2 linked regions of the Homo sapiens genome follow. The protein of the gene in region 2 interacts with the protein of the main gene of each other region in a pairwise test. Each region holds a gene or a part of one and is shown on either strand. Other genes may lie near its edges.

Region 1 (7,970 bases), on a different chromosome or scaffold from region 2:
AACTACAAACATCTAGACTTTAAAACAGGCAAACATTGCCAAGATTGCCATCTGTGAAGAATACAAAGCACCTTCACACTATTTCTTCAGGTGACACAAAAGCCTGAGAAAACAAAACACTCAGAGTAACCTAGTTTAAATGTTGAGAAAGTCCAGTTCAAATAAACCAGACACGGCAGCCACAAAGGATAAATTATTTTCCTGATTACAAGGGTGGGCAAAAATCAAAATCACTTCAAAAGTCCCTGGAATTGCCTAGAGCTTGACTTAGCCCATGGATTTGAGGTTACACTACATTTGCTTAGCAAATATTTATTAAGTATCAATCCAGGTACCAAGCACTGTGCCAGGCACTCAAGATGAAAAGGTTAGTAAGGCAGACACAAATGATCCTGCTCTCGTGCAGCTTACGATTTAGGAAGGAATATAGGCATTAAGGAAATATTCATAGAAATAAATGTAAGTGCTATAAAACAAAGGTACACAATGTTGTAACAACTTAAAAAATAAGAAGTCAGTCAGGAAAGCCTTCCTTGAAGTGACATTTGAGCAAGAAACCGAGAAACAGCAAAGAGAGTTCCTGGTACAGGGAACAGCACAAACTAAGGCCCTAAGGCAGAAGGAAATACAATGAGTACAAGGGACTAGAAGAATGAATGTGTAGCTGGGCTCCCTGATCTCTATCTGCAAGACAACAGAATCTAGAAGATGGAACTAAAATGCCAAAAACAAAACCTAGTTGCTTTTAAACACTAACAAGATTAGTCCTTGAGGACCCTAAATCAGACCTTGATAAGTGACACAATGAACCTGGGGCTCTGATGAAATAATATATTTAAAGGCACTTCAGGTTTTAACGGTTTCAGAATTTAGGTCTTAGCTGAAGAACATCGCAGAGGAAATCAGACCTCCTTTTACCTTGCCACCCTGACTATGTATATATTTAAGTCTTCCTTAATTGTAAAATTGCAAGGCCCTGGAATTGCTTAGAGCAATTCCAGCTCCAATTTGAACTCTTTAAGTCCAGCTTTGCAGACTTCAAATGCTAACTTAGCCAGATTATGTGAGCAGCAAAACACAAGGGGTCGGGTGGGAGTGTTCCAAACAGGATCAAACTAAACCAAATAACAAACTGTCATTATTCAGGACTTAAACTTATTCCTTAGATATAAATACATTCTGTAAATAATGCTCATCTAGTGTTTTTTTCTTTGTCTAGACAGACATCTCGGACCTCTGTCCCAGACTATTATGGCACCACCAGGGAAATGGGCGGCAAATGGATTATCTGTCCAGCACCCTTTTCCTGGGTATGGGCTCATCTCCACATGGCTTCAGCAGGAACAGTCACGTTTGTAGAAAAGAGCCCTGTCCCTCATTCCCAGGTGATTTAGAATTAAGACTGTGGTGGTGTGATAGATTTCCCATGTTAACACAAGCAGCATTGATTTCTATAACCCAAAAGTAATAAAAGAGCCAGTCAAAGTTCTAAGTGAAAAATGGTGAGATGGCATTCAAGGCATAGAGCCAAAGTAAAATTTGTAAGGGAAGGAAGATTGATCACATACCCACACCATGGTGTCACCTCTAATCCTGCATCCATGCTTCTCTCCATGCTCCCCTCCATGCTCATCATGACTCATGATTACCTCTCTGATTTTATTTCCTATCACTCTCTCTTCCTTATTCTGATCCAGCCATCTAGGCTGCCTTTCCGTCCCTCAATTGTGAAGACTCTTGATTTTCTTGTAAATGAACTAGAAAGCCAATGCAGCAATCTAAGCAGAGGCCTGAGATCAGACCTATAAGATCTCTCTGACTGTAAGTGGAGTATAGACTGATTGTAGGGGAACAAAAATGGAGAAAAGAACGCCGGTTAAAAGCTGTTACATTAAATAGTAGTCCAGGCAAGAGATGATAGAGGTGTGGACTACGATGGTCTCAGAATTAGTGCTGAGAAATGTCTGGATAACAGGATTTACTGATGGGCTGGATATAGGATGAGGAAAGGGAGGAATTAAAGTTAAGCCCCAGGTTTTGGGTTAGAGCAGCTGGTGACTTTAGGGGCCATTTATAGAAATGGTGACGATTAAGAGAGGGGCATGAATTATTATACAAATTCTGCTTTGGACAAGTTAAGGCTGAGGTATCTATTTAAACATTCAGTAGGCTGAAGGATCATTCAGTCCTAATTGTTTACTAAACAAATAATAAGTACCTATATTGCCAGGCACTACGGTAGGACCTAGTCTGAAGAAAGGAACACAGTTCTATGAGACTATGAAACCAAAGATTTACCCACGACTTGGTCAGCTGCCCCAGGAGCCAGAAAATACAGCCTAGCTGAGATCTGAAGAAGGAAGGGAAAACTGCAGGATAAAGAAGAGCATTTGAAAAGGCTTCTACGGTAGAACGCGGCAAGAGCCTTCAAGAAACTGAGGGCCCAAGTGAGTGCCGCCCGCAGAGTGAAGAGGAGGACAGCTGCTGCCCCGAGGGGAGAGGGCCCCCTCTGCGAGCCCGGGGTGGCCGATTCAGGATCTGAGGCTTCAGCCTGAGAACTAAAGAGGACGAGAAGAACACACCTGTTGTGGCGGGCTTTTTCGGGGAGGACGCGGGTTGGGAGATTAACTGGACCGGACTAGACCTTTAAAAAATAACTACTATGGCTGCAGTGTGTTAAAGACCGAGGAGAAACCTGAGAAAGAACTTATCTCCAGTTTCTCCTCACAGACCCTCAGGGTCAGGGAAGACCCTACACTATTTTTACACAGCCTGGGCTTGCCAAAAAGTTTTTCTCAGGTATAAACCAACTAGGGGAGCGTGTCCTTCTCACCTCGTCAATGACCTCGTCCTCTTCATCCTTTTCCTTGTCACTGTCATCATCGTCTTCATCCTCATTTTCGACTTCTTTTTCCTCTTCCTCGTCGCGCTGGACTGGGGGATCCGGCGGCTGCGGAACCCCACTTTCCACGGCACGCCGCTTAGACCTGGACGCCATGTTGCCGCTCACACTGCGCCTGCGCAGCTTCCCCTTGCCTGACCTTCCGGACCAGCCCATAGTAGCCAAGGGGGTGAGGAACTACGAAGAAGCTCGGCGCTGAGTGCACGTCAACCCCAATGCCCCTGCTGGATTCCGCAGCCATGACCCCTTACAGTCACGTCCAGCTTGCGGTCCCATCTTGCTTTTTTCTTCCGCTTTCCACCCTCCATCACTCCTCCCAAAGCTTCCCCTCCCCTTCCCGTAGTGGTTCAACCCATCTAACCTCTGGCCTCATTCCGTGGCCTGGATGGCGGTGCGCATGCGCGAGCGCCTAGCTGCGCGCAGCCACCCACGCGACCCCAGTCTGAGGTGCGGGGTCCTGGGGCCCGGCGCGGGTGGCCGCCGCGGCCCCTCGGGCTGCGTGGGGAGGGGGCTTCCGCCCCTGTTGTCATTGCTCCTGCAGCCTTTTCGCTGGGACTGCGCGACACCGCCCCCCGACCGGGTGCCCGCTGTGTGCCAGGCCGGGTGCTGGGCACGGTCCCGCGAGGTAGGTGTCGCCGCCCGCTGTACCGGTACGGACGCCGAAGCCCGCGGGCGTGCAGGGGCCCGGCCCCGGGCGGTGTGTGACACAGTGGGGCCAGGGCCCCGAGGCTTCCGCGGACCTGGGCCTGCCCAGGCGGGGATGTCCGCTGCCGCTACCGCTGCGCCGGTGACGGAAGGCGCCTGCCCAGCCTACCCTCGCCGAGCTTCTGGAGCGCATTTCTTGACCTAAAAGTTTTTTTAAAGCCGGCACCGCAGTTAAAAATGCTTCGGCGGGGGGCCGGGCCCGGTGTCTCGCGCCTGTAATCCCAGCACTTAGGGAGGTCAAAGCGGGTGGATCACCAGAGGTCAGGAGTTCGAGACCAGCCTGGCCAACATGGCAAAACCTCATCTCTGCTAAAAGTACAAAAATTAGCCGGGCGTGGTGGCGGACACCTGTAATCCCAGCACTTTGGGAGGCCGAGATGGGTGGATCACTTGAGGTCAGGAGTTCGAGACCAGCCTGCCCAACATGGCGAAATCCCATCTCTACTAAAAATACAAAAACTAGCCAGGTGTGGTGGTGCGCGCCTGTAGTCCCAGCTACTCAGGAGGCTAAGGCAGGAGAATCGCATGCCCCCAGGAGACGGAGGTTGCAGTGAGCCGAGATCGCGCCACCGCACTCCACACTCCAGCCTGGGCGACAGAGGTAGACCCTATCTAAAAAAAAAAAAAAATGCTTCGGGGCCAGTGGGGTAGTCTAGGTTAAAGACCCGAGCCTATTTGGAGAGAAGAGTGGAGGGGACTGCGGCCAACTGCAGAGCGAGCGCCAGCCCCTGTGGCAGGTGGGGATGCAGCCTGGGGCAGCCAGGTCTTCCCATTGCGAGAGAAACAGGGTTCATCAGCTTTCTAGGAATAAGATCTGCGGTTCTCAATTGATTTTTCTCTGTAAAATGAGGGGGGTGGGTTGGATATGTTTGATTCTAGGAATGGTGTGAGCTGCGCTAATAGGCTGCTTCTGTTTAAGCAGGGTAACATCTGATAAATCAGTGATCCTTCATCAGTACGAGATGGCGTGCCCTAAAGGTCCCCAGGAGCCCAGATTGCCCATAATCGTGTTCTGTGATTTCGGTCTTTCCTGGGAGTCTCTTGTCTACCCAGCCATGTCATGGATATTAAAGTAATACTTACACATCAGCGCTCCACATCTGATGGGGCAGCTTGAAATGGCCTCTTTGGGTCGCACAACTGCAAAAACATGTTCCTGTAATGGAGAAGAGAGGAAGCTGTCAAAAAAGACCCATCAAAAGGCTAAGATTAGAAAAAAGACTCAGAAAGACCATGTGAACATATCAACAGAGTTGCACTGAGATACCATAGCCAATTTTTTTTCCTGTTTCTTTATACTTTTTTTATGGTGGTAAAAGATACATAACATACATTTTACCATCTTAACTATTTTTAAAGATACAGTTCAGTGGCATGAAGTGCATTCACATTGTGCAACCATCACCACCACTATCCATTGGCAGAACTCTTTTCATCTAGCAAAATTGAAACTGTAGTTAAACAACTCCCTTATTTTCCCTCCATGACCTTTCTACTTTCCATCTTTATTAATTTGACTATTCTAGAAACCTCATGTAAGTGGAGTAACACAATATTCTTCCTTTTGTGACTATTTCATTCAGCATGATGTCTTCAAAGTTTATCCCATGCTGTAGCATGCATTAGGATTTCCTTCCTTGTTAAGGCTGAATAATACTCCATTGCATGTATAGACCACATTTTGTTTATCTACTTATCTGTCGGTAAACATTTTGGTTACTTCTACATTTTAGCTGTTGTAAATAATGTTGCTATGAACATGAGTATCAAATATCTGTTCGAGTCCCTGCTTTCAATTCTTTGGGGTATATATGTAGCAGGGGAATTGCTAGATCATATGGTAATTCTATGTTTATTTTTTTGAGGAACTATACTTTTTTGTAGTTTGCAAATCTTTCACAGTAAACAGGATCACTTTTGTAAGACAAGTAGGGGAAAAAGCCTTACTTTATGCCCTCAGATTAGTTCCCAGTGTTGAGCTCATGGTCAAAGTGTGAATTAGAATAGTGAATGTGAAAGTAAATACAGTACTGACCCTAGGGAACTGAACTCAGCAGGTAGTAGATTGCTTACCACTCGTTCAGTGTTCATCTTTAGCTCAGAATTTATCTTAATGAGGCAGAGGGATGGTAGCAAGTGGTTAGGAGACTGAGCATGGGCTTCAGACCAGGATCCAAATTCCATCTCTCCCACTTACTGTGCTGTGTGACCTGGGACAAGTTACTCAAACCTCCCAGGGACTTGGTTTCACCTCCTGCAAATAAGGCTAACACCACCTACCTTGCAGGTTTAAGTGAGGATTGCAGTCTTGCATGTAAAATGCTTAGCCCAGTGTGATAGTTACTTTTACATGTCATCTTGACTGGATCACGGATGCCCAGATATCTGGTTAAACATTATTTCTTGGTGTGTCTGTGAAGTTGTTTTCAGAAAAGATGAGCATTTGAATGGATAGACTGAGTAAAGTGGATTGCCCTCCCCAAAGTAGGTGGGCAGCATCCAGTCTGTTGAGGGCCTAAATAGAACAAAAAGCCAAAGAAGGAAGAATGTGTCCTGTCTCCTCCTGCATGCTTGATCTGGGATATCTTCTGCCCTTGGTGCTCCTGGTGCTGAGGCCTTCACACTCAGGCTGGAACCTACACCCTTGGCTCTCAGGCCTTCAGGCTACAACACCAGCCTTCCTGCTAACAAGTCTCCAGCTTGCAGACAGCAGATCATGGGACTTCTCAGCCTCCATAACTGCATGAGCTAATACCTTATAACAAATCCCTTTCTAGATGTAAATATATGCCATTGGTTCTGTTTCTCTGAAGAACTCTAATACACCCAGTAATTAACATGAGTAAATGCTCAGTAAAAGGGTGACTGTTGTTATTGCTGATACCCAGAACACCATGACATAGAAGGTACGGGTTTGAGGTTTGGTTCTTTCTTACCAGTAAGGTGCCCTTATTCCAGTCATTTTTTTTTTCTTTTCTTTTTCATCAATGATTGATGAACATAAGTATGAGGGTAAAATGGCAGAGCAAGCATTAGACTGTAAATCTAGAGACAGGTTGAGCCCTCTTTTTACCAGTGCCGAGGTGAGTTTCATGTTGGAAGCTTCAGGAGCAGCTTCATTTCTGCTGGGGCTTCTCCCGCCTTTTTCCCCCTCAATGGGAAATAACAGGTTTCGTTATTTTCATTGGAAAAAAAGGCAGAGGAAACCCCAGACACTGCACGGTTTTTAGGCCCTAGCCTCACCAGTCTCAAGCCTCCTATCAAGGAGGGCCATATAGTGCCTCTGATCTGCTTGATGCAGACCCTAGGGTCCTTCCCACTCCCATGAGCCACCCACCAGAGTGAGCTAAGAAATCAACTGGCAGAGAGCAGAGTCACGTATGGCCAAGAGGAATTGTTCTGGGGGTTGTTTAGTAAGCAGGAGAGAGGGAGGAGAAGAAAAACTGCACAGGGATCAGATGCCTCCAGCAGAAGAAAGCGAGGCATAGAGATCCCTTACCATCTGAGTCACGTGGCACCAAATATGTTACCAGTGGCAAATCAGTAGACACCTGCAGCAACCTCAATCTTGTCTCCTCAGAAGAAAATTCAACTGGGGGCATAAGGCAGAAAAAGTGACCGAGGCAAGCTTCAGAGCAGGAGTGGAAGTTTATTTTAAAAAACTTTAGGCCGGGTGCAGTGGCTCACACCTGTAATCTCAACACTTTGGGAAGCCAAGGCAGCCGGATCACGAGGTTAAGAGATGGAGACCATCCTGGCCAACATGCTGAAACCCCATCTCTACTAAAATACAAAAATTAGCTGGGCATGGTGGCGCATGCCTGTAGTCCCAGCTACTCAGGAGGCTGAGGCAGGAGAATCGCTTGAACCCGGGAGGCGGAGGTTGCAGTGAGTTGAGATTGCACCACTGCACTCCAGCCTGGGCGACAGAGCAGGACTGCATCTCAAAAAACAACAACAAAAAACTTTAGAACAGGAAAGAAAGTAGAGTATGCTTGGGAGAGACCTAAGCAGGCAACTTGAAGGACAAGTGCTCCATTTTACTTTAAGGAAAATTAATCATTCTTTCTGTTTCAAAGATGCTGGGTAAAATTGAAATTGTTGTTTTCCCACAAGGTGAGCAAATAATGAGCATCTACTACAGGAAAGAAAGTCCATCAAAAAAGCCAACAATGGAGAGGCTCACAGCCCCTTTCCAATGTACAGGAATCTGAAACTGAGACTGAGGCAAGAGCAGCCTAGACCAGAACCCAGACACTGGCCCTCCTGTGCAAACACCCTCTACTCCACCAAGCCTCTTCCTAAAGCCCAAGGTGGCGACATGTTAACCTATCTGTGCACGCTTCTCAATTGATTTCTTTCC
Region 2 (7,939 bases):
GGTGGTACTGTTGTGGTCCTTATTTTATTAATATAATTTTTATTAAAACTCTGCTGGTTTGGGCCGGGAGCGGTGGCTCACGCCTGTAATCCCAGCACTTTGGGAGGCTGAGGCAGGCGGATCACAAGGTCAGGAGATCGAGACCATCCTGGCTAACACAGTGAAACCCCATCTCTACTAAAAATACAAAAAATTAGCCGGGCGTGCTGGCGGGTGCCTGTAGTCCCAGCTACTCGGGAGGCTGAGGCAGGAGGATGGCATGAACCTGGGAGGCGGAGCTTGCAGTGAGCCGAGATTGCGCCACTGCACTCCGTCATGGGCGACACAGCGAGACTCTGTCTCAAAAAACAAAACAAAACCCTGCTGGTTTGACACAGTTGAACTCCCATTCCATAAAACCCTACTTCTGTATCTTCCAAGATTCCACATCCTCTCTTAATTTGAACCTATGTCATGAGAGGTTTCCTCCTAAAATGTCATTGCTTTCTAGGGTTCCTTCCTTAACCCACTGCTTTCATCAGTGGTGCTCAAACATTAATGTGTGTCATAATCATCCAGGGGACATGTGAAAAATACAGAAACTTAGGCCCCTATTCTATTTAAATGAACCATCTGGGCCTTTGAACTTGTAACCGAAGGCAGGTCTGGCCGCTTGCTGCTTGCAGAATCCAATAACAAGAGCGAGCTATGATAGAAAGAAAGTGACATTATTCTTTACCAAAACTTGCAGTGGGGAAGTGGCTGGATTCACATCCAAGGTAACCACTTCAAATTTTAGGCTGAGGAGAAGGGCTTAAAAAAGGGAACTTGGAATGGGAGGCATGTGAGAGGGGTACTGAGTACAAGGTCTACGTGTCTTGTTCCAGTGGCTATCTTGAGCTGTGGTCCACTTAGAGTGTGGGCTGGCATCATCTCAACAATGGCCAGGTTATTTTCTAACTGCCTTGAATTTCTGGAATTTTGCAGCTGGGTCCCTATGCTTGGTCTGTTTCAAGATTAGCCCCTGGAATTTCTAAGTAATCACATAATTAGATACCAGCATATAGTTAGATAAAAATGTGCATGGTGTAAGGAAGTGTATGGTAAGAAAGGGAGGGACGTGGTGTTTCAAAGAAAGTAAATTTCAAGGCTGTACTTTAAGACTAAGGAGAAGAAAACAATGATATATGCAGTAAGCTTCAAGGTTATATCTTGAGACTAGGGAAAAAACAGAAAAAAGAAAAAAGGTTTTAAAATGCATTTTCAGGCTAGGCTGTTTGGTTACAAATTCTCTGTTGGCTCATTGTGATCCCATCTGGTCTTACATCTTTATCCACCCATATCACTACCTCTGCCCTGCACTTTCCCCTGGGCTTCAGATGACATGTCCAACTAGATGTATTTCCATGCAGACACCAAAAACTCATTATTGCTTGTCCGCCTCTCCCCCTGAAACCTCACCACCTACTCAGTTACCCCAGGCAAAACCCAGTATAATTTTAGCCTTCCTCCTCTGATTCACCAAATAATTAGAGTTACAATTCTCATAATGGTTCACATTTATTGAGTGTGATGTAGAACAAGTGTACTCTCATATGCTGCTACTAAACAGGAAATTGGTACAAGCACACTGAAAAACTGCATTTTACACGGAGACTTCAGAGACATATTGTTAAATGCAGCGTAAGGACCTTGTTTAGGTCATGATTAGAATAAACCACCTGTAAAAAGACATTTTTGAGACAATCAGGGAAAATGGATTATGGCTGGGTATTAAAGGATATTAAGAATTGTTATTAGCTGGGCATGGTGGCTCATGCCTGTAATCCCAGCACTTTGGGAGGCTGAGGCAGAGGATCTCTTGAGCCCAGGAGTTCAAGACCAGCCTGGGCAACATAGCAAGGCCCCATCTCTAAAACATTAAAAAAGAAAAAATTATTAATAGTAATAAAGTTGTGTTATCTTTTTGCTTATACCACCTGGTCTGGTGGCAGTTATTGACTGAGGCGAAATGTATGATATCCAATGACTCAGCAAATTCACTCTTAAGTATGTTTAAGAAAGATAAGAGCTTATGTTCACCAGACGTGTGAAAATGTTTATTGCAGTTATTCATAAATAATCTTCAAGGTTATTCATAAGAGCCAAAAAGTAAAAAAAAAACTAAATGTCCATCACAGTAGATTTTTTTGGGTAAAAAAATGTGGTTTATTTAACAATGAACCATTAAACAATGATAAAAATGAATGAACTATAGTTATATCCAATAGATGAATCTCAAAGATATTATGTTAGATTAAAGAAATGAGCTGCATGGTTCTATTACAATATGATTCCATTTATATAAAGTTTAAAAACAGGTAAAGCTAAGGTGATGGAGGTCAGAATAGTGATTATTTTGGGGAGGCTATCAACTAGGAAGGGGTATAACAGAGAGGTTTTTGGGGTGCTGGGGACATTCTATATCTTGATCAGGTTGAAGTTACATATATAAATATTCATCAAGTTTTACACTTAAGATTTGTACTCTTTACTGAACTTAAATTATACCTTATCTGGGCACAGTGGCACATGCCTATATACCCAGCTATTTGAGAGGCTGATTGGGGAGAATCACTTGAGCTCAGAAGTGCAAATCCAGCCTGGGCAACATGGAGAGACCCCTACTCTAAAGAAAAAAAAAACTAAATAAAAATGAAACAATCAATTAATTAGAAATGTAGCGAATGTTTACAATAAGTTAGATATGAAAATAAATGATTTTCACATGTTGTTTAATCCTCTCAACAGCCTACAAAGTAGGTATTAATATTGTACCCATTTTATAGGTGAGAAAATTGAAGGCACAGAGAATCTAGGTAACTTGCCCCAAATCACAGTTAATAAATGGAGGCTTGGAAACATTAGTTTGGCTTAACATATTTCAACTTCTTCACTATGAGACACAGAACTACGTATCTGAGGCAGTGATAGAGTGCTTATGTGTGTATACTGAGGCCAAACTATCATGGTTTGAATTCTGGCTCTGCCACATAAGAGCTGTGCATGACTTTGAGCACGTTATTTAATCTTTCTGTGTTCAGTTTCCTCATCTGTAAAATGGGACTCGTGTCATCTTATATGGTTCTTTGGCCCTTATTTCAGAATTTGATGATTTTTCCTCTTACAGTTACTGTTGCTCTTCTCTCTCTCTCTTCCTGAAGGGACTGAGGTCAGAAAGCTTGTGTCCACGGTGTGAGAGCATAGAAAGGCGTATTGGGACTTGGAATACCACTTAGTATATTGTTCTGGAAAGCCAGTTTGACATGGTGGAAATAATCTAGGGTTTAAATCTTAACTCTGATACCTATTATATGCTGTGGCCTTACTGAAACTCTTTGAGTCTTGGTTTTCTCTTACTCATGATTCATTCTGCGTTGAGTGCTTGTATTATCTGTCCCACTCTCCCTTATAGTAAGGGAGTATAATCATATATGTCCAACTCTTTATTCATCAAAAAATGATTATTGATCATGAACTGTGTTATAAACACTATTCTAGAAACTCAGGATACAGTCATGGACAAGATAGAAAAGCCTCTTTCTTGAGGAGTTTACACTCTGCAGAAAGCCTGAGGGTTGCTCTTGAAGACCTGGATCATGGTCCCATTTGTCTGGACTTGTGTTGCTGAAGTCCCAACTGAACAGCAAGTCCAACTAGTCATCCTGGAAGTCCTCAGCTCATGATGAGCTAGCTATTTTAGCACTCTGATCTTCTAAGAACCAACCCTGAACTGCCACCAGGCTTTGCTTATACTATCTAGTCTGGTAGTAAAAAGTGTACAGATGCCCAAACCCACTGAGGTTTATAACCATTTTCAAAGGTTTTAATAAAAAGATTGAATACTGGATTAACTCCAGAGCCTATTCAGGCTCAATTCCTAAGCTATTAATAATCGCTAATATCTAGTGAGTGTAATAATTACTAATATCTAGTGAGTGTTTAGTATGTGCTAGACATTGTACTGATTTACATGTACTAACATCTAATCCTCACAACAATCCGGGGAATAAATACTATTATTATCCTAGTTTTAGAAATAAATGTGACACTTACAGGTTAAGTAATGCACCAAAGGTCACAGAGTGGTCCTTTGGCCTTTGAAACAAAGCATCCTGATGCCAGGCTGTGCTCCTTACCACTATGTCATACTGTTGTAAAGGAGATGGGACTAAGAAGCTCTAAGTCCCCAGTTTGTTTTGTAATTCTGTGACAGTGATCACAAACGTTTTGACAGTCCAGCAAAATCCTGGCCAGAGTTCTCTTTTGTGGACCCAGAAAGCCACAGGCACTAACACTTTAGAGCTATCTCTCTTAGCCCATATGCCCTGCGCTTTTGGCATTTTCTTTATCATTTAGAGGGGAAGGAGGGCAAGGGTCTGAGGAGCCTTGAATGGTGACTTGGACTCCAGGGGTAGTGGCAAACCATTGGAGGTTACAGTGCATGGAATTAAAGACAGCTTGAATGGTATAATCTGACTGGCTCATTTTACAGAAGACAAAAGCTGCTCAGAGACACAAGGGTCTTCCTCAATGGCCCGTGAGTGGCAGAGCTTGTGAAAGGAAGTTGATTCACTGCGAGTGAACCAGAACTCAGAAAGACCAGTAAGCAACCAGGAAACACCGGCCACCATCTAGGCCTGTGGTGATGGCGGTTTTATCACGAATTCCTTCCTGACAATCAACTGCTCCCGGGCAGAAGCGATCGCTTTCTTGACCCACCCAAATGGACAATGACCCAGGCGTGAGGTTCCTGAGGAGAGAAAAAAGTGTGTACAAGGAAAGGAAGAGGATGTCTCCCAATCGGAAACACCGAGATGCGGAAAAGTTGCACCGTAGAAAGAGCAGCCGTGCTCATGACGCACTTCTGGCCTCCAAGCGCCCCACAAGCGTGACGCACTTCCGGCCTCCTAACCGTTCTCGCTAGCGGTGCGCTTCTGGCCTGTTTTGAGTCCGCGCTCAAAGGTGCCAAAGTGCAAGGACCCACAGTTGGGCGGAGCTTGGGTTGGGAGTGAGACAGCATAGCAGTCCAGGCTGGTCCTTTGAGCGCAGCTCAAAGAAGGGGACGGGGAGGGCGTCACTATACAATTGTGGCCGGGTGGGACCTGGGCTGTTTGCTCTTGGAGGCTGTACAGCTGCAAGCTTTGCCGCTCACGAACTGGAGCTGGAGAAAGAGCCCCCCAAGGATGGGAGGATGACAGAAGTGTCTGCAGATGGCACTGCCTGGGCACCAGGAGAGGCAAGGACTCCAGCTGATTCCTACCTCCTAGGGAAGCCATCCCCACTCTTAGTTGGGGCCGGCTTAAGTCTTTAACCAAGGCTCTTGCAGTTGCAGTGTCTGTTTCTTTTGAAGAGGCAGATTTGGAGACCTGTGTCCAAACAAATGCCATTGTCCCATAGTGTTTTTATGTTTTTGTTAGTTTGTTTTGGTTTTTTTGAGACGAAGTCTCGCTCTTGTCACCCAGGCTGGAGTGCAATGGCACCATCTCTACTCACTGCAACCTCCGCCTCCCGAGTTCAAGTGATTCTCCTGCCTCAGCCTCCCGAGTAGCTGGGATTACAGGTGCCTGCCACCACACCCGGCTAATTTTTGTATTTTTAGTAGAGACGGGGTTTCACCATGTTGGTCAGACGGGTCTCAAACTCCTGACCTCAGGCGATCCGCCTGTCTCGGCCTCCCAAAGTGCTGGGATTACAGGCGTGAGCCACTGTGACCAGTCTGAACTCACTTTTAATTTTAGGAGCTTGTTTTGTAGATTCTTTGGGACTTCTTATACAGATAATCATGTTGCCTGCAGATAGTAACAGTTTTGTTCTGAGTTTCGAATCTGTGTGTCTTTCATTTCATTTCTTTTTCTTTTTCTTTTTTTTTTTTTTTTGAGATAGTCTCGTTCTGTCACCCAGGCTGGAGTGCAGTGGCATATTCTCAGCTTACTGCATCCTCCACCTCCCGGGTTCAAGCAATTCTCATGTCTCAGCCTCCTGAGTAGCTGGGATTACAGGCACACACCACCACACCTGGCTCATTTTTATATTTTTAGTAGAGATGCGATTTCTCCATGTTGGCCAGGCTGGTCTTGAACTCCTGGCCTCAAGCAATCCATCCACCTTGGCCTCCCAAAGTGCTGGGATTACAGGTGTGAGCCACTGTGTCTGACCTATGTGCCTTTTATTTCTTTTTCTGGCCTTGCTCTTGCTAAGACTCCCAATATGATGTTAAATAGTAGTGGTAAGAGCAGACATACCTGCCATGTTCCCAATCTTGGAGGGAAAGACATTCTGTCTTTCATCATTAAGTATGTTTGCAGCTGCAAGGAGAGAATAATATTGAATTATATGTCAGTATAGATACTGCAGCACAATATTTAGCTTAACTACATATTTTTTTGCAGCCAAGGCAAAAATGACTTTGTGCATGAAACTTAAGTTCCACCACAGCCTCAGCCTATTTGTGGCTGGGATTTTCAGACATATGGGAGAGAAGTTAGTATTTTCAAGTCAGGATTAAGTAACAGTAAATATGCCATGATCATACACCATACTCTGGGTATCATGATCTGATATTACTTATAGCTTCAGTTAAAGATACTGTAGGAGTTAGAGGGAGAGCTGGATAGTTAGGCTGTGAGGTGACCAGAAAGAAAGGTGGTTCCCATTGGAATCTAAGGAATGGTCAAAGCTTGAAAGTAATTATGTTTGATGGTAGAGATTGTGACAGACATGAGTATGAGTATTGTATTAGTCCGTTGTCACAGTGCTATACAGATATACCTGAGACTGGGTAATTTATGGAGAAAAGAGGTTTAATTGGCTAACAGTTCCACAGGCTGTACAGGAGGCATGGCTGGGGAGGCCTCAGGATACTTACAATCATGGTGGAAAGCAAAGGGGAAGCAGGCACAATCTTCACATGGCCAGCAGGAGAGAGACAGCAAAGGAGGAAGCGCAACACACTTCGAAACAACCAGATCACATGAGAACTCACTATCACGAGAACAGCAAGGGGGAAATCCGCCCCCATGATCCAATCACCTTCCACCATGTTCCTCCCCCAACACTGAAGATCATAATTCAACATGAGATTTGCCTGGGGACACAGAGCCAAAACATATCAAGTATACATTTCCTTAGAGGTGATACATTGGCTGGGAAGACAGGTCAGTGTGAATTAGCTATTATTATTAATGATCTTGAAAACTCTCTGGGAGACTTTCCAGACAAATGAGAGTGGAAATTTTCTTCCTTTCCACTCCCTGCAAAACAAAAATAAGTTATTCCCAACTCTTTTTGTTTTTAATTTTAGTGTTCCCATCTTCTGGCCAAGAATATACTCAACTCTTCACCAAGTAAACATACGGGTTCCCATGTTTCTAAAAACCGATAAAATTAACAATAGAGACTTGTTTTTGTTTTATATCCAGACTTAATGGTCATTTATGTAATGTAAATATCCAGAATAGGCAAATCTATAAAGAAAGTGGTTGTCTAGAATTGGGGGAAGAAGAGAGGTATGTACATGTGTGTCTATTAATTTTCTATTGCTGCTGTAACAAATTGCCATGAGTAGTGGCGTAAAACAACACTAATTTATCTTAGAGTTTTGGAGGTCAGAAATCCAAAATGGGTCCCACTGGTATAAATTCAGGATTTAGACTAAGGAGAGAATCTGTTTCCTTGCCTTTTTCATCTTCTGGAGGCCACCCACTTTCCTTGACCCTTGGCCCCTTCCTCCATCTTCAAAGCCAGTGAGGTTGGGCCAAGTCCTTCTTGTGCTGTCATTTTTGTGATTCTCTTTCAATTCCCTCTTTCACGTTCAAGAACTCTTATGATTACACTGGGCCCACCTGAATAATCCAAGATAATCATCTTTTTTTTTTTGACAGGGTCTCGCTTTGTTGCCCAGGCTGGAGTGCAGTGGCTC

The links.
Region 1: the proteins of ZNF19 (region 2) and BCCIP interact in binary tests that used the Homo sapiens proteins (3 or more experiments, as listed by UniProt).

What each region holds. Positions count from the first base shown.
Region 1 is NC_000010.11:125,818,586-125,826,555, reverse strand, and holds the start of BCCIP (BRCA2 and CDKN1A-interacting protein), read right to left. Parts: upstream 3,011-7,970; 5' UTR 2,999-3,010; coding exon 2,834-2,998; intron 1-2,833. UniProt on the Homo sapiens protein: During interphase, required for microtubule organizing and anchoring activities. During mitosis, required for the organization and stabilization of the spindle pole.
Region 2 is NC_000016.10:71,486,316-71,494,254, reverse strand, and holds the start of ZNF19 (zinc finger protein 19), read left to right. Parts: upstream 1-4,930; 5' UTR 4,931-4,983; intron 4,984-7,939. UniProt on the Homo sapiens protein: May be involved in transcriptional regulation.